Linked DNA regions of Homo sapiens: all the other regions are linked to region 5. Evidence: fine-mapped expression QTL. A gene starts in region 5. Each other region holds a variant in brackets. All regions are shown on one strand. Distances are between the middles of the regions.

What was found. PIP is the estimated chance that this variant, and not a neighbour inherited with it, causes the effect.
Region 1: its variant is fine-mapped to the expression of KCTD20 in whole blood (TOPMed, PIP above 0.99).
Region 2: its variant is fine-mapped to the expression of KCTD20 in whole blood (TOPMed, PIP above 0.99).
Region 3: its variant is fine-mapped to the expression of KCTD20 in fibroblasts (GTEx, PIP above 0.99).
Region 4: its variant is fine-mapped to the expression of KCTD20 in whole blood (INTERVAL, PIP 0.99).
Region 6: its variant is fine-mapped to the expression of KCTD20 in whole blood (INTERVAL, PIP 0.97).

Annotation. Positions count from the first base shown.
Region 1 is chr6:36,555,170-36,560,241 of GRCh38, reverse strand. No RefSeq gene overlaps it. Among named protein-coding and RNA genes, the nearest start is that of STK38, 10 kb to the right of the region's middle. The variant C/T (reference allele first, on the strand shown) is at 2,698.
Region 2 is chr6:36,682,915-36,687,982 of GRCh38, reverse strand. It overlaps CDKN1A (cyclin dependent kinase inhibitor 1A), which reads right to left. Exons shown (of 3, transcript NM_000389.5): 2 at 3,437-3,886; 3 at 651-2,232. The coding sequence starts at 3,881. The coding sequence ends at 2,183. Among named protein-coding and RNA genes, the nearest start is that of CDKN1A, 6.7 kb to the right of the region's middle. RefSeq lists a silencer at 127-206 and an enhancer at 4,878-4,997. The variant G/A (reference allele first, on the strand shown) is at 2,983.
Region 3 is chr6:35,709,572-35,714,642 of GRCh38, reverse strand. It overlaps a transcript of FKBP5 not described here. Among named protein-coding and RNA genes, the nearest start is that of FKBP5, 23 kb to the right of the region's middle. The variant G/A (reference allele first, on the strand shown) is at 1,947.
Region 4 is chr6:36,407,308-36,412,379 of GRCh38, reverse strand. All of the region lies in intron 3 of PXT1 (peroxisomal testis enriched protein 1), which reads left to right. Among named protein-coding and RNA genes, the nearest start is that of ETV7, 22 kb to the right of the region's middle. The variant CTTCT/T (reference allele first, on the strand shown) is at 2,499.
Region 5 is chr6:36,440,325-36,445,392 of GRCh38, reverse strand. KCTD20 (potassium channel tetramerization domain containing 20) reads right to left here and starts at 2,393. Exons shown (of 8, transcript NM_173562.5): 1 at 2,282-2,393. It overlaps PXT1 (peroxisomal testis enriched protein 1), which reads left to right and starts at 2,539. Exons shown (of 5, transcript NM_152990.4): 1 at 2,539-2,858. RefSeq lists enhancers at 1,276-1,335, 1,941-2,040, 3,525-4,072 and silencers at 2,201-2,490, 3,649-3,718.
Region 6 is chr6:36,395,047-36,400,118 of GRCh38, reverse strand. The region is part of intron 4 of PXT1 (peroxisomal testis enriched protein 1); the gene reads left to right. Among named protein-coding and RNA genes, the nearest start is that of ETV7, 9.9 kb to the right of the region's middle. RefSeq lists a silencer at 25-74. The variant C/T (reference allele first, on the strand shown) is at 1,990.

The sequences.
Region 1 (5,072 bases), 110 kb before region 5:
AGGAGGCTAAGGCAGGAAGATTACTTGATCCTCAGGAGGTCGAGGCTGCAGTGAGTGATGATAGTGCCACTGCTCTCCAGCATGGGTGACAGAGTGATACCTTGTCTCTAAAAAAGTAATAATAATAGGTCAGGAGCGATGGCTCATGCCTGTAATCCCAGCACTTTGGGAGGCCAAGGTGGGTAGATCACCTGAGGTCAGGAGTTCGAGACAAGCTTGGCCAACATGGTAAAATCCCATCTCTACTAAAAATACAAAAATTAGCCAGGTGTGGTGGCACACGGCTGTAATCCCAGCTACTCGGGAGGCTGAAGCAGAAGAATCGCTTGAACGTGGGAGACAGTGGTTGCAGTGAGCCAGCATCGTGCCACTGCACTCCAGCCTGGGCAACAGAGTGAGACTCTGTCTCAAATAAATAGACAAATAATAGTAATAGTAATTAATTAGTAAAATATCTGTTGGATATCCTGTATTCTTCTTCCTTTGGGTTGAGGCACAAAGAACAGCGAGAAGATATAGTCATGACAATAGTCATAATATCTACTATTTATTGAGTACGTAACTCCTGATTATGTCATTCAACTAGCCAATCAATCAACCACATATTAACTGAGAACACAGCATGTGCCAAACACTAACGACAGTGTTTCCTCTCATGGTGCTCATTAGAGCTTCTCAACTTTTTTCACGGTCACACATGAAAAATCATACCCTTTGTACATCCCCAGAGGTAAATGAATGATGAGGCTACTCAAGGCTGCCTGAGCCCCTTGGCTGCCCTGAGGGCTGGGAGATCAATATCTCATCATCCCCGGCCTCTGATCAAAATTCTTTCTTTCAATATCTATTCTGATATTGAATGTGACTGTGGAGAAGTTTTGAGGGCAGAGGTGAGGACCAGCATAGGGTAAAAGCTGCTAGTAGTCTTCAGTGAGTTAAGTAAGAACCTTGGAGAATGGGGCTGGTTTCAAAAGCTTGGAGCCGAAAAGAAAAACAGAAAAGCAGCATTAGATTGTTCCACTTTCAGTAATGAGGAGAGAAAGAGAGACGGAAGCTCATTCTAAAAATCAGGAAATGGAAAAAGTTACTCTAAAAATTAGGAAGATTAAACTGAGGATCTTTAACTAATCTGAGATTCAATCCTAAGGTTTCAGAGGTGAAAACACTTGTGAGTTTCTGTTGGCACATCTGTTTGTAGACACTGATGCCTGCTCATTGTGCACTGTGCACAGATGGAAGCACCCTGAGAGTATCTTGTTTCCTGCAATAGAGTGCAACTGAAAATAAGGCTGCAGGAATTAAATCAGATTGTCAATGGAATAGTTGAGTTCACTATGAAAAACAGCCCCATTTAGATAAAATTCATTTTGATCTATCTGTCAATGGAAAATTATGAAGCCCTTAAAAAAAAAAAGAAGGGGACTGGGCTCAGTGGCTCACACCTGTAATCCCAGCACTTTGGGAGGCCGAGGCAGGCGGATCACGAGGTCAGGAGTTCAAGACCAGCTTGGCCAACATGGTGAAACCCTGTCTCTGCTAAAACTACAAAAATTAGCTGAGCATTGGCCAGGCGCGGTGGCTCACGCCTGTAATCCCAGCACTTTGGGAGGCCAAGGCGGGCAGATTACGAGGTCAGGAGATCGAGACCATCCTAGATAACACGGTGAAACCCTGTCTCTACTAAAAATCCAAAAAATTAGCCGGGCGTGGTGGCAGGTGCCTGTAGTCCCAGCTACTCGGGAGGCTGAGACAGGAGAACTGCTTGAACTGGGACCCAGGAGGCGGAGGTTGCAGTGAGCCAAGATCACGCCACTGCACTAGGCTACAGAGCAAGACTCCGCCTCAAAAAAAAAAAAAAAAAAGGACTGAGGCATTTCTATTTCTCCTGATGATCTGGAAGGCTTTCCAAAGTATATTTTTCAGCAAAGGATAATAAGGTGCAAAACTGTATGTTTAGAGTGTTATTTAAAAAAATATATATGTACAGTTATGTTTGCATATGCAAAGAATATGGAAGGATGCAGAAGAAACTGGTAAGACGTGACCCATGGGGAAGGGAGCTCAGTGGCTGGGGATCAAGGTGGAAGGTTTTCATTGTATACTCTTTTGAATTTTGTACCAGGTATTATTTATTTAGTGAAAAAATATATGCAAATACAGGAAAAAAAACTTTTGATGAATCATTTTTGCAAGGTTCATTTTTAACGCAAACAGACACTCCCTAATTTGCTTTGGAAATGTTGACATTTGTGTACTGGATTTTCTTAAAGCATGAAATACCAATGTCTGCAAACCACACCCCGGGTGCTTAAATTTGAGGTCACTGACAAAACCAGCCATACAAGTGTGACTTTCCAAAAAGCTAAACATTGTTGAGAGAAGCAGAGTGAGTGTCAGGGGCTTGATGTATCCCCAGCATCTGAGAATCTCAGAGAGAAGGGACTGTGGAGAGTTGGTGCAACCTCCTTTTTTTTTTTTTTCGAAATGGAGTCTCCCTCTGTCACCCAGCCTGGAGTGCAGTGGCGCGATCTCGGCTCACTGCAAGCTCCGCCTCCTGGGTTCAAGTGATACTCCTGCCTCAGCCTCCTGAGTAGCTGGGATTACAGGCACATGCCACCATGCCCGGCTAATTTTTTGTATTTTTAGTAGAGACGGGGTTTCACCGTGTTACCCAGGATGGTCTTGATCTCCTGACCT[C/T]GTGATCCGCCCGCCTTGGCCTCCTAAAGTGCTGGGATTATAGGCGTGGGCCACAGCTCAAGGCCTGCAATCTCCTTTCTTCAGAAATCAGGAAATGAGGCTCCAAAGGGGAAGAGACTTGCCTAATAAAAAGATTGTGCCATTTTGTGTAAAAAAAATGAGAAACATAAGTCTCTGTATCTATATTTGCTTCCAATTGCATGAAGAACTCCAGAAGGATACACAAAAACAAATGGGAAACTGTACAGAGAGGGAAGGGGAACAATGAAAGGATGCGAGACAGAGGTAGAAATGAGATTTTCACTTTTAATCTTTTATAATCCTTGATCTATTCTTTAAAAGAATATGAAAACATTAAAAAGAGAGATGGACCATGACATCTCTATGACCCACAGTGCAGTTTTCAAGGATGACATCATAAGACTGTGTTCAGAGACAAATTAAGAATCCTGTGTTGGGAGCGGTGGCTCACGTCTGTAATCCCAACACTTTGGGAGGCTGAGGCGGGTGGATCACCTGACATCAGAAGTTGATCAGCCTGGCCAACATGGTGAAACCCTGTCTCTACTAAAAATACAAAAAATTAGCCGGCTGTAGTGGCACACGCCTGTAATCCCAGCTACTTAGGAAGCTGAGGCATGAGACTTGCTTGAACCCAGGAGGCAGAGGTTGCAGTGAGCTGAGATTGTGCCATTGCACTCCAGCCTGGGCAACAAGAGGGAGACTGTCACAAAAAAAAAAAAAAAAAAAAAATCCAGTGTTGAAATCACAGATCAAATTCTACTGCTTCAAATACCAATGACTATCTAGAATATTTTGTCATATTGAAGTTTTGTCTTATTGAGATTTGTTTGAGATAATACAGGCCATCAGCTAGGCTTAAATCTCATTTTTAATTATAGGCAAATTTGTCAAAATTGTGCGATAACAGCCCATTGCTAGTCTGTGGATCCAGTCATACCAGGAGGTACCACAGGGCAGGAGAAAAATCAGTGGACAGGAAGTCAGGGAACCTGATTCTAACCAAGTTTTGTAACTTAATTAACGTTGTAATTTTGCGCAACTTAATTCCTCTCCTTAGACCAGTTTCAACATCTGTAAAATAAAAGGACTACATGAGGTGATCTCTAGGTTCCCTCTTAGCTCTGATATGATTGGATTCTGAAACCATTATTAGCAATTTAGAATGAAAAGGAAATTTACGAGGTCATTTTTGACATCCAGGAGACGGTAACAGGCAGTTGGGTCTCCTTCTGCTCCTTTGACTTGTAACTACATGAGAACTAGCAGGTGATCTTCTTGGCCCTTTTCTCTTGAGCCCACACCCTGATGGTGATTATCTAGATCCAGGTTCCTGAAAGAATGAGTTTAGGGAAATGTTAATCATTCTCCACAAAGCATCTCAAATACATTTGGGAAATCCTGTATAATAAGTGTTCCTGATGGAAGGTCAGAATGCAATTAAAGGTCCTGAGAAGTCCTGCAACAAAGAAACATGTAACTTTTACCTAACCCAGCACTCTGCACATTTATGGATATAAAACACTTTGGAGAGAGAGAGAGAGAGAGAGAGAGAGAGAGATAGAGAGAGAGAGAGAGAGAGAGAGAGAGTGTGTGTGTGTGTGTGTGTGTGTGTGTGTGCTGTTACCTCTATTTGGAACAAATGGGATCCAAATGCTTCCATTTTTAGGAAATTTATGAGATCAGTTATCAGATGGCAGTTAGGACAATTCTGGGGCCTCTGCAAATATGGAAGATTTAGCACGTTCCTAAGGGAGCCTGAGAATCTTGTGATTCGTGCAGCTTTCCACCCCACCAGTTTTTTTCAACAGTGGGAGCCTCAGAAACTCCGTTTTACAGGGAGGTTCCCATCTAAGCACAATTAGGTCAATGGACATCTTATCCCTTTCACTTCTGGCTTTCAGAATTTTTCAGAACTATAATTTTTATTCAGAAATTATAATTCTCTTTCCTTCCCCCCTAAGGCCTTCAGTCTACATTTGCATATATATATATGTGTGTGTGTATATATACTTATATGTGTGTGTGTGTGTGTGTGTGTGTGTGTGTGTGTGTGTGTATATGCATATATTCCCTCCCTCCTAATATCTGCAATCCCCAGTGGGTAGGTGGGAAAAGTTACGTGTCATTTGGGCACTGGACCTGACACACTTCACATCCTTTATTAGTTTTCGAGATTTTTCACCCTCAATTCCCAAAGAAACATTGACTCATCACAACATACACACACAGTCATTTGGAAAAAATTAATTTAAAATGTGTATCTCTTAAGACTTCTCAATTATTTTCGTCCCATTTTTAAGCATTCAGTTTAAAGAAAGTAAAAAAATCTCTAAGCAGGCACAAACATATAG
Region 2 (5,068 bases), 240 kb before region 5:
GGCTGGAGTACAGTGGTATGATCTCAGCTGACTGCAACCTCTGCCTCCTGGGTTCAAGTGATCCTCCCACCTCAGCCTTCCAAGTAGCTGGGATTACAAGCGTGCACCACCATGCCCAGCTAATTTTTGTATTTTTAGTAGAGATTTCACCATGTTGGCCAGGCTGGTCTTGAACCCTTGGCCTCAAGTGATCTCCTGCCTCAGCCTCCCGAAGCACTGGGATTCTAGGTGTGAGCCACTGCGCCCGGCCCAAACAGTTTTTTTAAATAAGAGATCCAGTTGCTCCATAACCTTGCCAATGCTTGGCACTGTCAGTCTTTTTTAATCATTCTGGTAAGTGTATGGTGGTATCTTATTGTGGTATCTTAATTTGCATTTATCTGATGAATAATGATGTTAAGCTATAATATATTCTTTACAAAAAGATTACACAACAAACCAAAATATTGACATTGGTGATCTTTGCAGAGGTGTGACAGTAGTTTTTGTTTTGCTGTTGTTTTTTGCAGCAGTCTTTCTGTTTGCTAAGTTTTCTGCATTCTCTAAATTTAAATGCTTAATTTTTAAAATTATTTAATTATGAAATCCTTCCCAAAAGCCCATTTATTTGTTCTTATAAGGTATAATAACCACAATAGTAATATTACAAGTAAAGTCACTAAGAATCATTTATTGAGCACCTGCTGTATATTCAGCATTGTGGGAGGAGCTGTGAAAGACACAGAACAGTACAGGGTGTGGTCCCTGCCCTCGAGAGGTTTACAGTCTAGGTGGAGAAACGGGAACCAGGACACATGGGGAGCCGAGAGAAAACAGTCCAGGCCAGTATGTTACAGGAGCTGGAAGGTGTTTGGGGTCAGACCCCAATACTCCAAGTACACTAAGCACTTCAGTGCCTCCAGGGGCTCAACGTTAGTGCCAGGAAAGACAACTACTCCCAGCCCCATATGAGCCCACGTGGCATGCCCTGTCCATAGCCTCTACTGCCACCATCTTAAAATGTCTGACTCCTTGTTCCGCTGCTAATCAAAGTGCAATGAACTGGGGAGGGATGGGGTGGATGAGGAAGGTCGCTGGACGATTTGAGGGGCCAGTGTCTCCCTCCTAGAAAGATCTACTCCCCCATCATATACCCCTAACACAGAGATAACCCCACTCAAGGGGGCCTGTGCCACCACATGGGACCCTCACCCCCACAGCTAGAGGAGGGGGCGGTCGCTGCTTGAGCTGCCTGAGGTAGAACTAGGGTGCCCTTCTTCTTGTGTGTCCCTTCCCCTTCCAGTCCATTGAGCTGGGGGTGGGGGTGGGACAGGCACCTCAGAGCCACCTGGAGCTGAGAGGGTACTGAAGGGAAAGGACAAGGGGGAGGGACAGCAGCAGAGGGGAATTGCAGAGCCCAGCTGGAGAAAAAGGGTAGCTGGGGCTCCTCAAAAGGTACAGGGGAGCCAAAGAGGGAAAAGGCTCAACACTGAGACGGGCTCCCCAGTGCAGGTCAGAGGGGCCATGAGGGCAGGCGGGGTGGTCTGCTCCAGGACCCCACCTTCCCCCTGCCTTCACAAGACAGAGGGGGGTATCAAGAGCCAGGAGGGTACCAGGTCCCCAGCTCAGCCCTAGGCTGTGCTCACTTCAGGGTCACCCTGCCCAACCTTAGAGGAGGTGAGGGGACTCCAAAGTTTTTGATGATGCCCCCACTCGGTGAGGCCCCTTCAAAGTGCCATCTGTTTACTTCTCAAATGAAAAAGAATTCAGGTCTGAGTGTCCAGGAAAGGGGGTGAATTTCATAACCGCCTGTGACAGCGATGGGAAGGAGCCACACCCCTCCAGAGGGTACCACCCAGCGGACAAGTGGGGAGGAGGAAGTAGCTGGCATGAAGCCGGCCCACCCAACCTCCGGGAGAGAGGAAAAGGAGAACACGGGATGAGGAGGCTTTAAATAGTATTTCATAAAATAAAAATGCCCAGCACTCTTAGGAACCTCTCATTCAACCGCCTAGTTTTTGTTTAAATAATTCTAATGCCAGAGGCTGGGGGGCAGGGGGCGGCCAGGGTATGTACATGAGGAGGTGTTTAAATTAAAACACAAATAATAATTAAGACACACAAACTGAGACTAAGGCAGAAGATGTAGAGCGGGCCTTTGAGGCCCTCGCGCTTCCAGGACTGCAGGCTTCCTGTGGGCGGATTAGGGCTTCCTCTTGGAGAAGATCAGCCGGCGTTTGGAGTGGTAGAAATCTGAGGAGAGACAGCAGAAGTCAGCCAGGCCAAGAAGAAGAGGACGCGGCGGAGCTGCCCAACTGAGGAAGACAGTGGGGGGCCAGGACACCCTTCCCTGGGGCCAATGGGGCCGACTGCTGAGAACAGGAAGAACTCGGGGAACGTCCACTCTGTCTCTTGAGGGGTATTATGGAGTGTCCCACCATGCTTCACAGATGTGATTTTATCCATCACCGCACCCGCACCCATGGGTCTGCTCTAAGTCAAGCTGCCCAGCAGAGGAACCACTACTAGCTCTGTGTGCTTGTTTAAACAGACTACAATCAAATAAAATGAACAATTCAGTTCCTCAGTCACATGAGCTGTGTGTCAAATGCACAACAGCCGTATGTGGCTCGTGGCCCCTGTACCGGACACTCCCATCCCTGCAGAGTTACTGGACAGTGCTGATCTAGGGATTCTGTTACAAAATCCATGAAAGTGTTCAGCACAATGCCGGGCCCATATAAACGTCAGTAGTTGTTGTTATTATAATTAGTCTTGACCCAACGGCAAATTCACTTTGAGACCTTAGATAAATCACTCTACCTCTCTGAGCCTGGTTTCCTTGCCCTAAAAGGATGGCAAGGGGCTGGGCATGGTGGCTCACGCCTGTAATCACAACACTTTGGGAGGCTGAGGCAGGAGGACTGCTTGAGCTCAGGAGTTCAAGACCAGCCCGGGCAACATGGTGAGACCTTGTCTCTACAAAAACTCAAAAAATTAACC[G/A]GGCGTAGTGGTGTACAACTATAGTCCCAGCTTCCCAGCTACCCAGGAGGCTGAGGTAGGAAGATCGCTTGAGCCCAGGAGTTTGAAGCTGCAGTGAGCCATGATCGTATCACTGCACTCCAGTCTGGCCAACAGAGTTAAGACACCTGTCTCAAAAAGAAAGGCGGGCAGGGTGACAAGAATGTCTTATGTTATAACATTGCTATAAGGACTAAATAAATCTACCTTAGAAGCTTGGCAAAGGGCCTGGCATAATGAACATTCCCAATAAATGTTAGCTAGTTGGTCTTTGCTGCCTACTTGCTGTGTGACCTCAGGGAGGTTGCTTCCCCTCTCTGGGCCTGTTTCCTTCTACCTGGAGCATGCTGGACCAGGACCAGACAGGTCAGCCCTTGGACCATGGATTCTGAGAATCCTGGTCCCTTACAAAGTCCTTCCGTGCACATGTCCGCACCTGTCATGCTGGTCTGCCGCCGTTTTCGACCCTGAGAGTCTCCAGGTCCACCTGGGGACCCTTCAGCCTGCTCCCCTGAGCGAGGCACAAGGGTACAAGACAGTGACAGGTCCACATGGTCTTCCTCTGCTGTCCCCTGCAGCAGAGCAGGTGAGGTGCCAGGCCGCCTGCCTCCTCCCAACTCATCCCGGCCTCGCCGGGGCCCCGTGGGAAGGTAGAGCTTGGGCAGGCCAAGGCCCCGCACACGCTCCCAGGCGAAGTCACCCTCCAGTGGTGTCTCGGTGACAAAGTCGAAGTTCCATCGCTCACGGGCCTCCTGGATGCAGCCCGCCATTAGCGCATCACAGTCGCGGCTCAGCTGCTCGCTGTCCACTGGGCCGAAGAGGCGGCGGCAGGCCTTGCTGCCGCATGGGTTCTGACGGACATCCCCAGCCGGTTCTGACATGGCGCCTGCAGCAGAGATACAAGGAAGGCCCTGGTCACGGCGGAGATTAGACACTATGTTACCTGGCCGGGCTTTGCTGTGTCACCTCAGGTGACGTCTTCCTACCAGAGGGTCTCTCTCACTCCTTCCAGCTGGTCTTCCTGCTTCCTTCCCACAGGAGGCCTGACCCCCACCAGCAGAGCTCAGCCAGCCTGGCACACCAAGGTCACTGGGAGAGCAGGCAACTGAAGGGCAAGCTAATGTCAACAAAGGCAAGTCTATTGCAAGAGCAAGGACCAGGGTCCTGTTTGCCACCAGGTATTATCAGCTAAAATCAATTTGTTTTCCCCCCAGAGGTGTCCCTCATGGGTGTGAATGCCCCCCAAATATGTGTGAATTGCCAGAGTCCAGCAGTTTCCTAATCGCAGCCCTGGCCAGAAGGTCAATTCCCAAAAGAAGAAACAGTCTGACAGTTCCTCCAGCCTCCTAAGTCCCCCGACCCAGATCCCCAAGTAGGGTAACCCTGCTCTGCCAAGTAAAAGTACCCGGGACTTTGGGGCAAAAAGCACCCGGGTTGTGGTCCTAGCTCTGCCAGTTACTACGTAAGCTTTAAAAAGCCACTTAATGTCTCTAGGTCTCAGTTTCCTCATCCATAAATGGGGCCATGTACAAGTTTAAAGAGCATGGCTACAGACACATACTCAAGAAATTGATCACAGAGTCCATGCAGCAAGGCAGACAGAACAGAGCTGAATGAAAGGCTGTATCCTGGTGGTTAAGCAGGAGGGCTCTGGAGCCAGATCACCTGGGCTGGAGTCCAGGTTTTACTAGGTGACCCTGGGCAAGCAACTTAACTTGTCTGAGCTCTAGTTTCCTCATCTATAAAATGGGGATAGTAATAGTGACTGTCTCAGAGGATAGACATGAGAATTAACTGAGTTAATGTAGGTAACGTGCCAGCAGCACTTCGTATAGAGAAGTGCATTGAAAACAGAAGTATGATTATTCCTCTCTGCCTTCAGTTTTACTGAGCCTCCCCCCTATCACTTCCCCCTGCCAACTACCTCCTTCAGACAGCAGCTGACAGGTGCTGTAGGCTGAGGGCCTTTCCCAAGGATGTCGTCAGGCGGGTGGCCTAGGGGTAAGGAGGGGCCGGGCGGGGCAGCGCAAGGGATGATTTCTCCCAGGCTGAGCCACATCCTGCCAGG
Region 3 (5,071 bases), 730 kb after region 5:
GTTTTGTCATGTTGGCCAGGCTGGTCTCAAACTCCTGACCTCAGGTGATCTGCCCACCTTGGCCTCCCAAAGTGCTGTGATTACAGGCGTGAGCCACCACACCCAGCAGAACACAGAGTATTTTGAAGAAAATACATTTTGAGAGTAAAATCCTATACATCTTGTTTTTCTTTTCTTTTTTTTTTTTTTTGAGGCAGTGTTTCGCTCTTGTCACCCAGGCTGAAGTGCAATGTCTCCATCTCGGCTCACTGCAACCACTGCCTCCTGGGTTCAAGCAATTCTCCTGCCTCAGCCTCCTGAGTAGCTGGGATTACAGGCACATGCCACCACGCCCGGCTAATTTTTGTATTTTTAGTAGAGACGGGGTTTCACCATGTTGGCCAGGCTGGTCTTGAACTCCTGACCTCAGGTGATCCACCCACCTCAGCCTCCCAAAGTGCTGGGATTACAGGTGTGAGCCACTGTGCCTGGCCGCCTAAGATTTTTCAAGTCAGTAAAGAGAGATGTCCTCATAACCCCTTAAGGACCTGCTTAACCATGGGTGGGTGTCAGCTCCTTACTAAGCAAGCCCTGTGGTTTTATGCCCCCAGGGAGACAGACCCCCTGAGAAGTGACCCCAGGCCTCAGTTGAAAGAGCCTCACATCTCAGTGGATGGGCTGGGGACAGAATTGTTCCAATCAGGGATGTCTGTGAGGGATTTCTGGAAGAGGTGAGATTTGGGCTGAGTCTTGACAGATTTTGACAATCAGAGGGAAGGGAGAAGGGCAGGAAGTCAAGAAAATATTTGGACCCCAAGGCTTAGTAGTTGGACAGGTGGGGCAAGAAGGCAGGGGAGAGAGGATGTGAGGGTGTGAGTCCGGAGAGGCAGGTCACAACCCTTCTGGGTGGCTGCACAGTTTTGGACAAGTGGCTGCTTTTTACATTCTCTGCTACCCTTTATGCAAATTGAGCATTTAAGTCTGGGAAAAAGCTCACAGGAGAATCCCCAGGGCAGGAGCGTTTGCTGCTCCTTGGGCCCCCACCCGCCAGCTAGCAGCTTCAGCCTCCTACACTGACTTCTGAGAGGTGCTGTGACTTAGAGCATATGTCACAGCTGTGCTGCTTGCTAGAAGGGTAGGTCTTTTAAAACCTCTGTGCCTTCATTTCCTTAACTGTCAAAGGGTGGTAGTGTCTACCTCATAAGGTTGTTGTTGGAGATTAAATTAGTGAAGGCACCTTAGACCATCTAGACCACCAGCTTCATTAAGTGCCTAGTAGACATTAGCTAATATTGTCACTGGAGCCAACGGTCTTCATAATGAGGCAAAATTCCATTGGGCTGTCCCTCTTCTAGGCCACAGGATTTGGCCTTGGCTGCTGCCTCATTCTAGTCCTAAGGTTCCCCCAACAAGTGTGGCTCCCATTGACCTGAGCCACATCCTCCTCACTCACCACATGCCCCAAGGAGTCACTCCCCTCTTTTTGCCCCACCCGCTTATGCCCACTCTACTAATACTGGCTTCATGTTATAAGATTTTTTTCTTTCTTTCTTCTTCTTCTTTTTTTTTTTTTTTTTTTTTTTTTTAGAGACCAGATCTTGCATTGTCGCCTGGGCTGGAGTGCAGTAGCGTGATCACGGCTCACTGCAGCCTTAACCTCCAGGGCTCAAGTGATCCTCCCACCTCAGCCTCCCGAGTAGCTGGGACTACAGGCACCCACCACCACACCTGGCTTTGGGATAAAATTAGTTTTGCTTTGTGCCCACAGGACCTGAACAGGAAAGCAAAACTGTGATGAAGGTTTACTAAGTAGTTTTGGGGAGTGCCCAGGCCACACGGCCAGCTTCAGTTCTAGGGTCAGCCCAGTTCCTGCCATCAGAAGTGAGTCTCAGAAGACAAGGCACTGGTGCCTCAGCATCTCCCTGAGGGTAGCCAGCTTACCACCCTGCATGTTGCCAGGCTTGGGA[G/A]ATACCTGTTGGCGGTTTGCATGACAGGGTGAAAGCAGGATCTAGCTATGCAATGACAGCCCTCGGATCTCTGAGAACTAGGACAGGATGGTAGACAAATCTGGCTCCTTGCTGTGAAGGGGCAGGTAGTGAGAGAACTGGCTTACAAAACAAAGCCTGGGCCCTTTCCTAGTGCCAGGCCCAACTAGCTCTTCCTTAGCAAACCATAAGGGTCTCAATGCTTCTCTTTGAACTTCCAGGCATATCTCCCTGGAAGATACCTACCACCCCTTACCCTCCTTACCCCCTTCTGGGGCTTTCTCCTGACACCTCCCATTCTGCAAAAGCCTTCTCTAAGATTCCCCTGTAAAATGGAAACAAACAAACAACTCTGTGGCAAGGGTTGAGATGATGGAGTTGGCCTTAATAGTTAGAAATTCCAGGTGACAGGCTTAATTCACTTTGGCGCAGGGGATAAAGGGAAAAAAGAGAGCGGGTAACAAACAATTATTCGCAAGCTATTTTCTAGAAAATACAGAGAGGCCAGGTGTGGCTCATGCCTATAATCCCAGCACTTTGGGAGGCTGAGGCGGGAGGATTGCTTGAGCCCAGAAGTTTGAGGCCAGCCTGGGCGACATAGGGACACGCTGTTTCTACTTTTTTTTTTTTTTTTTTAATTAGCCCAGTGCGATTGTACACACCTGTAGTCCCAGCAACTTGGGAGGCTTAAGTAGGAGGATCATGAGCCAGGAGTTCAAGGTTACAGTGAACTATGATTGCACCACTGCACTCTAGCCTGGGCGATAGAGCGAGACTGTCTCAAAAAACAAAAACAAAAAAACAGACAGAAGTAGAAACATAATGTACCAGACTAGTAAGTACACACACACACTGTGTGTTTTAAATCAACTTTACATGCGCATAATTTACTTATGATAAAATGCACCCATTTAAGTGTACAGTTTGATGAGTTTTGACAAATGTTTACCTGTGTAATGTCTATCACAATATAGATTAATTCCTCCACTCTAAAAGCTTCCCTGTTTCTTTTTCTTTTCTTTCTTTCCTTTCCTCTCCTCTCCTCTCCTCTCCTTTTTTTTGAAGTGGAGTCTTGCTCTGTTGCCCAGGCTGGAGCACAGTGGCACGGCCTCAGCTCACTGTAGCCTTCACCTCCCGGGTTCGAGCAATTCTCCTGCCTCAGCCTCCTGAGTAGCTGGGATTACAGGCACCCGCCACCAAGCCCAGCTAATTTTTGTATTTTTAGTAGAGACAGGGTTTCACCATGTTGGCCAGGCTGGTCTTGAACTCCTGACCTCAGGTGATGCACCCACCTTGGCCTCCCAAACTGTTAGGATTACAGCATGACCCACAGCTCCCGGCCTTCTTTTTTTTTTTTTTTTCTTTTGAGACAGGGACTTTGTCGCCCAGGCTGGAGTGCAGTGGCGAGATCATGGCTCACTGCAGCCTCAACTTCCCAGACTCAAGTGATCCTCTCACTTCAGCCTCCCAAGTAGCTGGGACTACAGGTGCGAGCCACCACTCTTGGCTTTTTTTTCTTTTTGTAGAAACAGAGTTTCACCATGTTGCCCAAGCTGGTCTTGACTTCGCGGACTCAAGCCATCTGCCTACCTCAGCCTCCCAAAGTGATGGGATTACGGGCATGAGCCACTGCACTGGCTGTGTTTGTTTCTTTTTGCAATCAATCGCTACCTGGCCCAAGCAAGGGCCCATCCCTACCCGGTCCAGTCTGCTTTCTACCAGTATAGATTAGATTTATATTTTCTAGAATTTTACATAAATGGAGTCACACAGTATATACTCTTTTGTATCTTGGCTTCTTTTGCTCAACTTAATGTTTATAAGATTTGTTCGTGTTTTTGCACATATTAAGTAGTGTGTTCCTTTTTATTGCTGTATTGTATTCCACTAGATGGTTATACCATAGTTTGTTTATTCATTCTCCTGTTGATGGACATTATGGTTGTTTGTCATTTTGGGCTATTATGAAAAAGTTGCTGTGAACACTCTTCTACAGCTCCTTTTGAGGACACATGTTTTTATTTGTCTTGGGAGCAGAATTGCTGAGTCGTATGGCAAATGTGTGTATGCTTAACTTCAAAAGAAAACTGCTAAACTGTGTTCCAAAGTGACTGTATGTTCTCACCAGCAAAGTATGACAGTTCCAACTGTTCCACATTTTGACCAGCTCTTGGTATCATTGGCTTTTTATTTTTCACACCTTTTTTTTTTTGAGACAAGATCTCACTCTGTAGCGCAGGTTGGAGTGTAGTTGTGCAATCATGACTCACTATAGCCTCAACCTCCCTGGGCTCAGGTGATCCTCCCACTGAGTAGCTGGAACTGCAGGCACACCACCATGCCCAGTTAATTGTTTTATGTTTTGTAGAGACTGGGTTTCCTATGTTGTCCAGGCTGGTCTCGAACTCCTGGGCTCAAGCAATCCTCCTACCTCAGCCTCCCAAAGAGCTGGGATTACAGGCATGAACCACTGCGCCCAGCCCTATGTTTTGCACTTCTGGTTAGGTGCAGAGGATCTCTCGCTGAAGCACACAGATGCTGCCCTGCTACCTTTTCTGAAGCTACTCTTCCTGCCCCTTGTTCTTCCACAACTGCTCTGAGCATCCTTCTGTTTCTGCATGTGCTAGGATCATTTCCTGGAATTCTCATCTTTTGGGCCTTAGCACAAATGTTGCCTCCTCAGAGGTCTTCCCTCACTACCCTCTCTAATGGAATTCTCAAGACTTTTTATCGCATTACCCTGTTTGTCCCGTGAGAACATCAGCTCCATGAACAAACATCTCTTGTCTGTTTTTTTTTTTACCTAAAAGCAGTGCTTTAAAGATCATAGATGCACAATATATATTGCTGAATGGACTTGCAAGTCTAAAGTGTATGTTCAACATATTGACCTTTGGGGTCCTGGGAATGAAAGCGTTTGCATGACATCAAATCAGAAATATTTAAAGCATAAGTTATTTTTATTGTCTGGGACTGTTCTATTTTGCATGTAAATATCTTAAAATCCTGCAAATATAGAAAACAAGAAAGAAAAGAAAAAACAACCATAGTTTCATCAAACTATGTTGATTTCTAAAAAATCAAATTGTTATGGTTTAGAAATACAA
Region 4 (5,072 bases), 33 kb after region 5:
TATTTTTTTTATTTTTGTTTTTATTTTTGAGACAGAGTCTCACTCTGTCACCCAGGCTGGAGTGCAGTGGCACAATCTCGGCTCATTGCAACCTCGACCTCCCAGGTTCAAGCGATTCTCCTGCCTCAGCTTCCCGAGTAGCTGGGATTACAGGTGCACGCCACCACGCCTGGCTAATTTTTGTGTTTTTGGTAGAGACGGGGTTTCACCATGTTGGCCAGGCTGGTCTTGAACTCCTGACCTCAGGTGATCCACCTGCCTTGGCCTCCCAAAGTGCTGGGACTACAGGCATGAGCCACCGCGCCTGGCTCCATTCTTATTTTTAAAAACCTCTCTAAACACATACATTAGAATTTGCAAAACATTATTTTCTTTCACTGAATTATGTGTTTTCTTCAGGATTACTGTTTTGATTATCTGGTATTTGTTTTTTTGGCAAGGTCTTACTCTATTACCCAGGCTGGAGAGCAGTGGCAAGATCTTGGCTCAGTGCAGCCTCAACATCTTGGGCTCAAATGATCCTCTCACCTCGGCCTCTGAGTAGGTGGGACTACAGACACACATCACCACGCCTGGCTAATTTTTTGTTTGTTTTTATTTTGTAGAGATGGGGTCTCACTATGTTGCCCAGGTTGCTTTTGAACTCTTGGCCTCAAGTAATCCTCCTGCCTTGGCCTCCCACAGTGCTGGGGTTACAGGCATGAGCCACCTTGTAGGTAATTCTTTGTTATTTTAGTGAAAGATACACTGGATAGCTAGTGTGGGTTTTTTCTGCTGTTATGTGAGAACTGTTCCCCCAGATGGGTAGTAATAACTAACATTTATATAGTGTTTACCTGTGTTCTAGGCACTGTTCTGTGTAACTCATCAAGTCATCTCAACAACCCCTCTATGAGGTAGTTACTATGGTATTTCTTTTTTCTTTTTTGAGATGGAGTTTCACTCTTGTTGCCCAGGCTGAAGTGCAGTGGCGGGATCTCAGCTCATTGCAACCTCCACCTCCTGGGTTCAAGCGATTCTCCTGCCTCAGCCTCCCGAGTAGCTGGGATTACAGGTGTGCACCACCATGCCCAGCTAATTTTTGTATTTTTAGTAGAGACGGGGGTTTCACTATGTTGGTCAGGCTGGTCTCGAACTCCTGACCTCAGGTGATCCACCCACCTTGGCCTCCCAAAATGCTGGGATTACAGGCATTGAGCCACTGTGCCCAGCCATGGTATTTCATTAAGTTCAATATTCCATCAATTGTAAGATGAACCATTATTTTGTTTACTACTAAAAAGGTAAATAATGCTGTTGAAATATGACATGCCATTATGAGATTATAAGACACATACTGATTATGCAGGTATTCAAGATCTTAGAATGAATAAAATAATACATTACTATTGCCATTTTACAAATGAAGAAGCTGAGGCATGGAGAGAATGGATAACTTGTGGCAGGTTACATAGTTAATATGTAGCAGATTTTATATTTGAATCCAAGCTTTCTGGCTTCAGAATTCTACCACTATGCCTAAGTGCCTCTCCAGGACTCTCCCAAATGGAGACTCAGATGGTGCATAGGAGGGTTTTGAGCTGTCTGGGCTTTAGGGAGATGAGTTAGTTTCTGGCTCCATGTCCCGCAAATGCCAGAACAAAGAGACCTTTAATTTGAGGTGCCAACGTCCATCAAGAAGCTTCTGCTTTCACCACAGGGTTTGACCTCTTCCATTAAAGAAGAGTGGTCTGGATTCCTTCCTTCCTTCCCTCCTTCCTTTTCTTCTTTCTTCTTGCTTTCTTTTCTTCCTTTTTTATTTCTTCCTTTCTTCTCTTCCTTTTCTTTCTGTTTGTCTTTCCCTCCCTTCTCCCTTCTCTTTCTCTCTCTTTCTTCCTTCCTCTCTTCCTCCCTTCCTTTCTTCCTCCCATTTCCTTCCTTCCTTCATTTCTTTTTTTTTTTCACTCTTGTTGCCCTGGCTGGCGAGCAATGGCGCTATCTCGGCTCACTGCAACCTCCGCCTCCCGGATTCAAGCGATTCTCCTGCCTCAGCCTCCCAAGTAGCTGAGATTACAGGCATGCACCACCATGCCAGGCTAATTTTGTATTTTTAGTAGAGACAGGGTTTTTCCGTGTTGGTCAGGCTGGTCTCGAACTCCCAATGTCAGGTGATCCACCCGCCTCGGCCTCCCAAAGTGCTGGGATTACAGGCATGAGCCACTGCACCTGGCCTTTCTCTCTCTCTCTCTCTCTCTCCTTCCTTCCTTCCTTCCTGGTCTCGAACTCCCGACCTCAGGTGAGCCACCTGCCTTGGCCCCCCAAAGTGCTGGGATTACAGGCACGAGCCACCGAGTCCCCCAGCCACCCTCCCTTCCTTCCTTTCTTTCTCTTTCCTTCCTTCCTTTTCTTTTTCTTTCTTTCTTTCTTTCTTTTTTCTCTTTCTTCCTTTCTCTTTCTTTCTTTCCTTCGTCCTTTCTTCCTTTCTCCCTTCCTTCCTTCCTTCTTTCCTTCCTTCCTTC[CTTCT/T]TTTCTTTTCTTTCTCCTTCCTTCCTTCCTTCCTTCCTTCCTTCCTTCCTTCCAGACAGGGTCTTGCTCTGTCACCCAGGCTGGAGTACAGTGGAACAATTATGGCTCACTGCAGCCTCAAACTTCTAGGCTTAAGTGATCCTCCCACCTCAGCCTCCCGAGATCTGAGACTACAGGCACACACCACCACACCTGGCTAATTTTTTGTATTTTTTCTAGAGACGCGGTTTCGTCATGTTACCCAGGCTGGCCTCAGACTCCTGGCCTCAAGTGATCCTCCCACCTCAGCTTCCCAAGGTGCTAGGATTACAGGCCTGAGCCACCTTACCTGGTCTGAATTCTCTTTTCTTTCTTTTTATTTGCCTGAACTCTGTGCTAGGTACAGTGAGCTGGGGGCACCAAGTGGTGCAGTTGATCCCCATCAGACTTCCAGTTAAGGGTGCGTCTCCCTCTCCCAGTCTCTGCGTCTTGGTGGGGTAGATGGGCTTCCAAGCATCAGGAGCCCCTGTGGTGGGTTCTCTGTGCTTTCTGTCCTGGTTTGTTTATTTGCATCTTGTCTCATCTGCTTTCTGCCTTCCAGAAACACACATAGGTCTCTCATCTGTTGTTGACCTGCCTCCCATTCTCTTCAGTGTTCTGGCCTTGTTCTTTTTCATACTTTGATTTTGGTGAGGTCTTGGGGGAGATTAGGAGAGATGGAGAAGCCAATGCTTGTGCTCAGTCTTGAACCAGAAGCCCCTAGACCCCTATTTTTAGTGAACAAAATCAGGAGTATAAATGGATGACCACTACGTGAGAAAATAAAATATTAACATTATGCCTGGCAGTGGAAAGGCACTTATAAAACCTTCACACCATGTTTGCTTAAAAGCTTTCCTAAATACAACTCGAGGGACAGGTGATGGGAGGTCCTTACGTAGGATTCTCAAAGTACAATAGTATTTTTTAAAGTTCCGACACATTGAGGCTGATTATTTCCTTTACAAAGTATTTTTTTTTTTGAAACATGGTCTTTGTCACCCAGGCTGGGGTGCAGTGGCATGATCATGGGTCACTGCAGCCTCAACCTCCCAGGCTCAAGCAATCCTCTCACCTTGGCTTCCCAAGTAGCTGGGACTACAGGCACTACCATGCCCAGCTAATTAAAACAATTTTTTTTTTTTTTTTTTTTTTTGGTAGAGACAGGCTCTCCCTGTGTTGCCTAGGCTGGTCCTGAACTCCTGGGCTCAAGGGATCCTCCCCCAACAGCCTCCCAAAATGCTGCAAAGCACCTGACCTACAAAAAATTTTTTTTTCTTTTTTGAGAAAAGATTAACCAAGTCCAGGCATGGTGGCTCACTCCTGTAATCTCAGTACTTTGAGAGGCTAACGAGGGAGGATCACTTGAGCCAGGAGTTCTAGACCAGCCTGGGCAACATGGTAAGACTGTCTCTACAAAAAATAAAAAATTAGCTGGGCATGGTGGTACATGCCTGTAGTCCCAGCTACTTGGGAGGCTGAGGTGGGAGGATTGCTTGAGCCTAGCAGGTTGCAGTGAGCTGTGATTGTGCCACTGCAACAGAGAGAAGCAGAGAGAGGCAATAGAGAGAGACCCTGTATTAAAAAAAAAAAAAAAAGGCTGGGCGTGGTGGCTCACATGTGTAATCCAAGCACTTTGGGAGCCTGAGGCGGGTGGAACACCTGAGGTCAGGAGTTTGAAACCAGCCTGACCAACATAGTGAAACCCTATTTCTACTAAAAATACAAAAATTAGCCGGGTGTGGTGGCAGGCTCCTGTAATCCCAGCTACTCGGGAGGCTGAGGCAGGAGAATCACTTGAACTCGGGAGGTGGAGGTTGCGGTGAGCCAAGATCGCGCCAAGGCACTCCAGCCTGGGCAACAGAGCAATACTCAATACTCCATCTCAAAAAAAAAAAAAAAGAAAGAAAAAGAAAAAGGATTAACCAGCTGGGCTTGGTAGCGACACATGTTGAAGTCCCAGCTATTTGTTCTTGGGTCAGGTGTCCACTTCTGATCCAATCCACTTTGGCCTGGGGTTGTGGTGGGAAAATGTAGGAAGGAAACTGATTGCTTAGGCAACAGGATAGATTCTCCTGGAGGGAAAATCTCTATCTAGGAGCAATAGGCTATACCTTTAAATAGGCTATACCTTTAATACAAGGACCTTAAGTTGTGTTTTAGGATTCTGAATCATCATTATTATCACACACTTTGGACGCGGAGGCAGGAGGATTGCTTGAGCCCAGAAGTTCAAGTCCAGCCTGGGCAACATGAGACTCCATCTCAAAAAAAAAAAAAAGATTAACCATGAAGTTTTTCCAAATTCCTTACTGGGCCATTTAGACTATGACTTTATCTTGAGACTTGTGTGTGGATGTATACATATTCCCACAACTTTTCAGTAACAAATATTACATAAAATGAGCAACTTTTTTCTCCTAGATATTAAAATTTTAATACTTGGAAAATAATACAGAGTTTTACTTTTTTCATTCATTTTGAATCTTGTTAAAGGAATTTTTTTGCCTCCAATATATAACTAGTTTAGAGCTGTGATCTAATGATTTCTT
Region 5 (5,068 bases):
TGGCCTAATTCTAACCTCATCTCTACACATCTATTTGAAGGGGGAATAATAAATATAAAAATGCGTGTATTATTGTCCTTACCAAAGTTACTAGATGTCTCTGTTACAGATTTTTTTTTTTTTTTTTTTTTGAGACGGAGTCTCACTCTGTTGCCCAGGCTGGAGTACAATGGCGCGATCTCGGCTCACTGCAACCTCTGCCTCCCGGATTCAAGTGATTCTCCGGCCTCAGCCTCCCGTGTAGCTGGGATTACAGGTGCCCACCACCATGCCTGGCTTATTTTTGTATTTTTAGTAGAGACAGGGTTTCACCAGGTTGGCCAGGCTGGTCTGAAACTCCTGACCTCAGGTGATCCATCTGCCTCGGCTTCCCAAATTGCTGGGATTACAGGCATGAGCCACCACGCCCGGCTTCTGTTACAGAATTTAAGACTGACCTAACTACTACAGTTAGGCCTAATACAATGTATTTCTTAACTTCTTAAGGAAAACGAGATTATTGGAATAGTACGTGTATTTCTGGCATAACAGGAAGGAACAAATTGTGGATGAATAAAGAGAACCTTTTGGCAGCAGTGGAGTTTATCCAGCCCTCATTTCTGCCTCAAAGGAGGAATGCAACTCTGTGCCAGAAATATGTGTCTATATTGCAATGCTGTTGATAAAACAGCCTACTACAGTGCTTTGAGGAAAATAGGCATTACGCAGGTATTTGATGACTAAATTAACGTCCAGCTGAACTGAAAGCCCTCATAATGCTACTAGTACTGCTACATACCAGATAATATGACAGTCAAGGCCATGGGAATTATATGGCATTGGCTGCCCTGGTTCCATGGGGAGACTTGAGTGAGCTGGGCGGAGGAGATTTGGCCTAATGGCATTAAGCTCTGATGATACTAGAAGCAGCCCTCAGAAGGAAAAGATTAATGGGCTATCTCTAAACCATCAGAGCAATATCGGAATATGCATGAAAATCATTTCCTACCCCGTGTCAGGGTCAAAAAAAGCACTATCTTTTCTCATATTGGCTTCTGGAGAGTCAGGGCTTCTTGTCCTACGACTGGTTTAGGGCAGGGGAGGAAAACATCGACAAAGGGTTAAGGCTGTTGGGCAGTTTTTAAAATTCCCAGCCCAGCCTAAAGGTGGTGTCTGTCAACGTGTGGTCGGTCCCTGGATCATCAGTAACAGACCAAGAGTGCAGGTGCTTGCTTAAATCCCAGACTCAGGGACCCATCACAAATCTCTAGAATCAAATTTATGGAAGAGGTGCTAGGGTACTGCAACCTTATTACTAAGGAACAATCTTCTGTTTCAGAACTATGGCCTAGGAATTGGGGTTTCAGGTGGGGGCCTTGAGCGGAAGTCCTCTGACTCTGGATTCATCACATCCGACAGACACTACTACAACACTTTGTTTTGAAGACCATTAAAAAACTACCTCAACTTCTCGCACAGCGAACAGGAACAAAACTAAGGACTCTGGGACATATTTTCATAAGCTGGTTAAACAGTTCCTTCACAGCCTTGTTTATCATGTTAGTTTGTTCACTAGATTCTTATTTAAAAATAAATCTCTTCAACTGAGGAATTTTCAGAAAGAATCACAAACTCCAAAATAGAAGAGTTTTCTCATAGTGCAGAACTGGGCTTCTAAACCTGAAGACACTGCTATAAAAAGCAAAGTTTTATTTAAAAGAAAATTGCTGGTTAAGGCTTTCCCCAGCTCTTTTGCACTCAGAGCCACGGATGAAAGCTGGCAATTTGCGGGTGGCAGGGAAGGAAGACGCGGAAACAGGGCTGAAAAGACCGAGCAAAATGCGCTCGGCTCCAGAGTTCAGGAGGAAGTCCCCACCAACTACCTAATTTTTAATGGAGCCAATTAATTGCCAGAAAAACCGCGTCTGCAAATGTTTTGCCAGTCAACACTCCAGGTTCTCGCCATTCCTCTCCGGCGGGATGAACCACCCGAGGCCTGCAAAAAGCAGTCAAGCAGTCAAGTTACACTTCAGCTGTGCCCACCACCTGGGCGCAGCGTCGCCTCCCTCCCCAGGATCACCAGACTCTGCCCTCCGCGCGGAAACAGGAGCCCATCAAGCCGCTGCCCACAGGTTCCTCGCGCCCAGCTCAGCCCCGCGGCCTTTCGACTCGGGGGTCCGAACCGCCGCCGCGTCCGGAGGAGACGCCCCCTCGGCCACAAAGGGAAGACTCGGGCCACGCCCGCCGCCACACTCTCCCTGCCCGGTCTTCGCGCCCGAAACCGTACCGCGCCGCCACTTACTCGTCGCTCCCCGCCGCGCTGTCCCGCTCGGGGCTGGAATCCGCCCGGGAGGCGCGCGCAGGCCGCGCAGCCAGAAGCCGCAGCCGGGACCGGCTGTGCCGCAGCGGCGCGCGCCCCCCGCCCCGGACCGCGCGGCCACGCGGCTGAGTCACCCAGCGCTTCACGTTAAGAGTCCCCTCCGCGCGTGGCACGCCGGGAAGGCCGTGTCTGGGGACCCCGTCCGGGGCCGCACCGTAAATGGGTGTCGCCTTTCCTCCAGTCCACTCTGCACCCAACCTCAGCGGGCGCACTTTTCTGAGTTGCGCATACCCTCTCAATTATTAAAGGTTGCAGACGGAAAAGTTAGTAGTTTTCGGAATTGTAGAATACGCTCGTGCAGCGCCAGGACGGCTAATGCTTACCCGAAAATGTGGAACCCTGATCTCCCCATGCGTGGAGCGAGGTTGGAGGTAGCGTAGTAAGAATACTGGAGTTGCTTAAACGCATTTGCTCGAAAGTCACTACCCTGGATATACATTCTGGCCAAAAGAAAGGGGGAAAAACTCCACATTTTTCTCAAATACTGAGTTTCATGAAGGTACCTGCTATTACAAAGGTGTATTACAAATTTTAAATCAACCGGAAGCAAGTTACTGGGAAAACTGTGTTATGAGTAAAAGATTTCAGCATTCAAAAAACATCTATATATGGTCCATGTCCTATGAACCAAATGCTGGAAAACCCAAAAGGAAGTTCTTATTGTCACGGTTTCTAGTGGCTTTTGTACTTTTAAAAATTACACTAGGCCGGGCTTGGTGGCTCACGCCTGTAATCCTTGCACTTTGGGAGGCCGAGGCGGGCAGATCACCTGAGGTTGGGCATTCCAGACCAGCCTGGCCAACATGATGAAACCCTGTCTCTGCTAAAAATACAAAAATTAGCCGGGCGTGGTGGTGGGCGCCTATAACCCTAGCTGTTTGGGAGGCTGAGGCAGGAGAATCACTTGAACCCAGGAGGCAACTGGGAGGTTGCAGTGAAGTTCCCTCTCAAATATATATATATATGTCTATATATACTAATTAAATATACTGATTATGCAAACTATTTGTAAATTGTTGAAAGCTCTATAAACTAATAATAGCACAAATTTTAAAATTCGAAGTCGATTCTCCTTTTCCTTACAAGAGACTCTCTGAAAACTAATTTGGAATTGGATTAGAATTGGTGTTGAAGTGGAAGGAATGTAAGAAAATAGTTTGACTCAGTAGGTTTCACACGGTTAACGGATACTTGTATAGCAAATTTGTTTTATCAGGGTCAAAAAATTTAATTTTCAAAACTGAAGACATAAATTTTTTCATTATAATTTGGTCTTAGAGGCCTAGAGGGTCATTTTCCATTTCTATTCTCCCTCGTTTATGACTATAAAGTATGCAGGACTGTATTGTGTTTATCTCAACATGGACTAGGCTGTGAGGCTGCACTCGTCATCTGTAAGTCAGTCTCACGTCCCCATGGTGACTCAGCTTCCCTGCTGCTTGCGTCAGTGGCTCTGCCCTCCCAGCACTTCCGGGCTGGCAGAAGAGCTAGATTGGAGAATCCTGTAAGGGCTCTCCTTTGCCTCTGCCAGAAGTGAGTGGCCTTTTCACTTCTGCTGACGTTTCACTGTCCTGAACTAGTCACCAGGCTCAACCTGACTGACTCTAAGAAGGCTGTGAGATATAAATTCCTGTATGCCTGGAGAAAAGGAATATGAAAAAAGATTTAGTAAACACATGGCTATAAACCAATTTGAGTGAGTTATAGGCTCCAAACTTTACAACAGTAGCAGCATAGAGGATTGTTCAAACTAATGCCTTTATTTCCATTTTTATAAAGTACAGTGTTACAGCCTTTGAGTCAAAGAAAAATAAAAAACCTTCTGATATTCCTGCAAAACAGTTCTTGAAACAAATTCTTCCTTTCTGGAAAGATTCCTTCCCGTAGATTTGTATATTGTCTTTCTTTTTTTTTTTTTTTTTCTTTTTGTGGAGAATGGAGTTCTTATTCTGTTGCCCAGGCAGGTCTTGAACTCCTAGGCTCAAGCTATCCTCCTGCTTCTGCCTCCCTAAGTTTGGGGATTACAGGCATGAGCCACTGCACTGGCTGCAGATTTGTGGTATACAAAAATCTGGCCTGAAGTTTGGAGAATCAGGCTAACTACCGAGTCTTATTATTATTTTTTAAACACTTTCATTTTGGAAATTAAAGCATACAGAAAGATATAATAAACACCCGTTATCCATCATCCAAAATAAATAAGTGATAACATGACTTTTAATAGTTAATGGTTCAACTTTTGGCTAAAATTTCATATAATGAACAGCATATCAGACTGGGTACCTTTTTTGGGCAGACATCAAGGAGACGGGATATGAGAAATGTATATTCACAGAAAGCATAGGTGTTTGCTGGTTTTTATCATTTTATTTCTAATTTAATGTAGGTATCTCAAGACCCCGAGTCTCTGATATTTATTTGTATCTGAAACCAAAACCTTCTTCTTTTTTTTTTTTTGAGACAGTGTCTCCCTTTGTTGCTCAGGCTGGGTGATCACCACTCACTGCAGCCTCGATCTTCTGGACTTAATCCCCCTCCCAGGTTCACGCCATTCTCCTGCCTCAGCCTCTCGAGTAGCTGGGACTACAGGCGCCCGCCACTGTGCCCGGCTAATTTTTTGTATTTTTAGTAGAGATGGGGTTTCACCATGTTAGCCAAGATGGTCTCGATCTCCTGACCTCGTGATCCACCCGCCTCGGCATCCCAAAG
Region 6 (5,072 bases), 45 kb after region 5:
CACATTGAAGTGTAACAAACTGTTTCACACCCTCAAAACTGGATGCAATTAGAATCACCTGTTGAGTTTTAAAAACGACAGATGCCTGGGCCCAACCTGGAGAAATTCTGATTTAATTGGCACAAGGTAAGGCCTGGGAACCTGGCATTTTAAAAACTGCCTCAGTGAATCTAATGCACAGTCAGGGAGGAGAACCTATGCCTTGGACTGTGGTTATCCTCCCTGAATCAGCCCGAAGGGTAGGATGCAGGCCCTACCCTGGCCGGTTTCTTAGAATCTCCTGATTATTATAACAGATGATAAGGGAAAATAGGAAAGACTAATGATTACTGTTTGAAATTTTGGGGGTGATGAAATCCACAGCTAACTTAGTTTTCCTCCGAAACAACCTGTATTTGGCAGGAGAGAATGATTACATGGGCTTTGTGACAGACGGGGTGGCAGACCTCTCAGAGCCCAACTTCTTGCCCTTAGATTCAACTATCCTGTGAAGCTTTCTTGGTGCAGCTTCCACCATGCTGTCCTCCACCATGCATGCCACAGGGAGTGCCGTGTACTCTTTTATACTCAGGTCCAAATGTGGACAACACACAGCCTTTCCCTCAAATAAAACATCCTGGAGACAAAACATGAATGGGAGATCCCAACAATAATGCTATAAAAGCAAGAGGGGGCCAGGTGCGGTGGCTCACGCCTGTAATCCCAGCACTTTGGGAGGCCAAGGCGGGCAGATCACTTGAGGTCAGGAGTTCGTGACCATCCTGGCCAACCTGGTGAAACCCCGTCTCTACTGAAAAACACAAAAATTAGTCAGGCATGGTGGCACACACCTGTAGTCCCAGCTACTCGGGAGGCTGAGGCAGGACAATCTCTTAAACCTGGGAGGCAGAGGTTGCAGTGAGCTGAGATTATGCCACTGTACTCCAGTCTGGATGACAGAGTGAGACTCTGTCCCAAAAAATGAAATGAAATGAAATGAAATGAAATAAAATAAAATAAAATAAAGCAAGAGAGAAATAAAGAGAAAATAAACATAGAGAACATAGGCAATCAAATAAACTATTTGATAAGCCAATTTCATTCCAACAAATATTTATTGAATGCCTACTATATGCCAGACTCAGTTCCAGGCATTGGTGGCTACAGCAGTGAGCAGCAGGGCTCATAGAAATGATGTGGGGAGGGGGCAGATAACAAGGCAGATGAACAATAAATAGCCAAGTCAGACAGGGATGCAAGCTCCAAGCAGGATCAGGGCACACTGACTGATGGAGAGTGACTTCCAATGGGCTGTCAGGGAAGGCATCTCTGGGAAGGTGATATTTAAGCAGAGCCTGGAAATGAAGGAGCTAGCCATGAGAACACCTGGAGTGGGAAAGTGTTCCAGGCAGAGGGAACAGCCAGTGCAAAGCCCAGCCCCACCAATCTACTTTGTGTCTCTGTGGATTTGCCTATTCTGGACATTTTATATAAGTAGAATAACACAACATGGAACTTTGTGTATGGCTTCTTTCACTTAACATACTTTTTTCAAGGCTTATCCACATTGTAGCATGTATCAGTATTTTACTTCTTTTTACAGTTGAATATTCTATTGTACGATATACCACATTTTGCTTATCCATTCACCAGTGGTTGGACATTTGGGTTGTTTCCACTTTGTGGCTATCATGTATAATGATGCTGTGAATGTTTGTATATAACTTTTTGTGTAGACATGTTTTTATTTTTTTGGGGTACATACCTAGGAATGGAATTGCTGGGTCATGTGAAATCTCTATGTTTCACTTTTTGAGGAACTTCCAGACTGTTTTCCAAAGTGGCTGCACTATTATACACTGTGGCCCACCAGCAGTGTATGAGGGTTCCAGTTTCTTCACATCCTTGCCAACATTTGTTATTAACTATCTTTTTGATTGTAGCCATCCTAGTGAGTATGAAGTGTATCTCATTGTGCTTTTGATTTGCATTTCCCTGATGAATAATGTG[C/T]ATCTTTTCATATGCTTATTGGTCATTTTTCTCTTTGGAGAAATGTCTATTCATATCCTTGTCCATTTATAATTGACTACTTATCTTTTTATTATTGTAGGAGTCTTTTTTTTTTGAGACAGAGTCTTGCTCTGTTGCCTAATCTGGAGTGCAGTGCTGTGATCATAGCTCACACAGCCTTGAACTCCTGGGTTCAATTGATCCTCCCACCTCAGCCTCCTGAGTAGCTGAGACCACAGGCACATGTCACCACACCTGGCTAATTTTTTAATTTTTATTTTATTTTATTTTTTGTAGAGACAGGCCCTCACTATGTTGCCCAGGCTGGTCCTGGATTCCTGGGCTCCTGCCTTGGCCTAGGAGTCATTTGTATATTCTAGATGTAAGTTCCTTATCAGATATATGATTTGCAAATATCGTATCCCATTCTGTAGGTTGTCCTTTTACTTTATTGATAGTGTACTTTGAAGTACAAAAGTTTTGAATTTTGATGAAGTTCAATTTATCTACTTTTCTTTTTGTTGCTAGTGCTTTTGCTTTGGGTGTCACACTTATGTTTTCTTCTAAAGGCTTTTTAGTTTTAATTGTTAAATTTAGATCTTTGATCCATTTGAAGTTAATTTTTACATACATTTTAGTTAAGAGTCTATCTTCATTTTTTTGCATATGGGTTGTTGTCCCAACACCATTTGGATTTTGTTGTTGTTTGTTTATTTCTTTGAGACGGGGTCTTGTTATGCTGCCCAGACTGGCCTCAAACTCCTGGGCTCCAGAGATCGTCCCACCTCAACCTCCTAAGTAGCTGGGACTATAGGTACATCTCACTGTGCCTGGAGTACCATTTGTTGAAAAGACTATTGTTTCCCTATAAATTGTCTTGGTGTTATGGGATCTTTGGGGTGTCAATTTTCTGGCCGGAAACCTCTGTGGCCATGGCATCTTTTGCCCAAGTTCTTTTCCTGCACCCAGTAAGAATGCATCCAGGAAGAATGAGGTATGCAGACAAGTGAAGGGTAAACAAGACAAAGATGAGCTTTATTGAGTGTTACAACAGCTCAGAGGAGATCCGCAGTGGGTAGCTCCTCTCTGTAGGCAGGTTATCCATTGAGTGTTCAGTTCTCAGCAGAGAGGAGGCCCTGGAGAGAGTAGCTCCTCTTTGCAACTAGTCGTCCCAATGTCTGCAGCTGTCAGTGGAGAGGCGGCCCTGGGAAGGGTGGCTCCTCTCTGCCAGCAGGTCATCTCTGCAGCTCTTAGCAGAGAGGGCAGTTCCTCTCTGCAACTTGTTGTTTCCTCATCTCCAGCTATCAGCAGGGAGGGTAGCTCCTCTCTGCAGCTGATCATTCCATTGTCTCTCTACCCTCTTTGTCCTGAGGACATCATCTGCCCTGCTCTGGCTGAGCCCAAGGCTTATATGGACCTCAGAGGGGAGGCAGTGCATGCTGATTGGTCGATGGGTGGCCATGGGTGGGCCTGGAAGAGGCACCACCAGTCCTCACTCTGGTCCACAGGACTGGCAGCCTAGCCCCCAGCCTTTAGGCCTTCCCTGGCCTGAAGGTGGGGTCTCACTGGGGACCCACCCCCTTCCACCCAGGAATCAATCTGCCTCCGGCGCCATGCGGGACTCAGCCCCAACCCCTGCTCAGAGATTGGAGCAGGCTCTGGGAGCAGAGAGAGGCCAGGCAGTGGCAGCAGACACCCCTGAGCCTTCAGGGGTAGGGGTAGGGTGCTTCCTGGGGCCCCTGAGGGTGCAAGCTGCAGAGATGCCTGGGTCCTGCAACTGGGAGGGTGGCCACAGTGGCACCCAGGGAGCTCCTGCCCCAACTCAGAAGGGGCTGGGCTCCTACTGGCTCCATGGAGCATGTGGCCCCAGCTGCACCTTCCTGCTGCAGCCAGCATGAGGACAGCAGCCATTGCCATCATTGGCACCCTTGTTGAAAACCAGTGGGCTGTAAATATGAGGGTTTCTTTCTGTACTCTCAATTCTGTTCCGCTGATCTGTATAGCTATCCTTATGCCTGCTCCAGCTTTTCTTGCAGAACTTTATAAAGCTGGTTTTGACCTAGACATTTGTTCTGTACTATAAACCTGTAAACTTGTACTTTAGAATACCTTCTTTTGTTTGTTTGTTTTTTGAGACAGGGTCCCACTCTGTTGCCCAATTTGGAGTACAGTGGCACTATCTCACTGCAGCCTCAACTTCCCAGGTTCAAGGAATCCTCCCACGTAGGCCTCCAGAGTAGCTGGGACCACAGTTGCCCACCACCACACCTGGGTAATTTTTTTGTATTTTTTTGTAGAGACAGGATTTCACCATGTTGCCCAGCCTGGTCTCAAACTCCTGGGCTCAAGCAATCTGCCTGCCTCGGCCTCCCAAAGTGCTAGGATTACAGGCGTGAGCCACCGCGCTCAGCCTAGAACACCTTTAAATAGACCACAACACATTTAAAAAATAATAGTTTGAAAAATTCCAGCCGAGTGTGGTGGCCACAGTCCCAGCTACTCGTAAGGCTGAGGTAGGAGGATCGCTTGAACCTGGGAAGTCAAGGCTGCAGTGAGCTGTGATCGTGCCACTGCACTCCAGCCTGGGTAACAGAGTGAGACCCTGTCTCAAAAAAAAAAAAAAAAAAAAAAAAAAATCCTAAGTTTGGCTCTGAAATGCTGAAGGCTTTGCTGCTTCAAAGTTCAAATCAAGGAACTTTAACAGAATTTCAAGTCTGGCATGGTAACTTTCTTTCCTATATAGTCATCATTTATTTACCTTTTGTACTCTGTTTAATCAAGCAGTCACATCGATTCTCTAGATGCCTTCCTGCCATTGATGTATTTAAAGAAACTTTTATTCTTGCTCTTGGAACTGCCTATCAAGCAGCTCATCAATTTATATTTTTATCTGCTAAATGGATTGTTGTTGAGCTGCCAAATTTTTTGCTCTCTTGTTCTTTTTACTTAAGCAAGTGCTCTGTCTTTTCAAAAGTGTTCTGTGTTTCTCAAAATAACATCTTTTAGGCCGGGCACAGTGGCTCACACCTGTAATCCCAGCACGTTGGGAGGCTGAGGCCAGGAGTTTGAGACCAGCCTGGGCA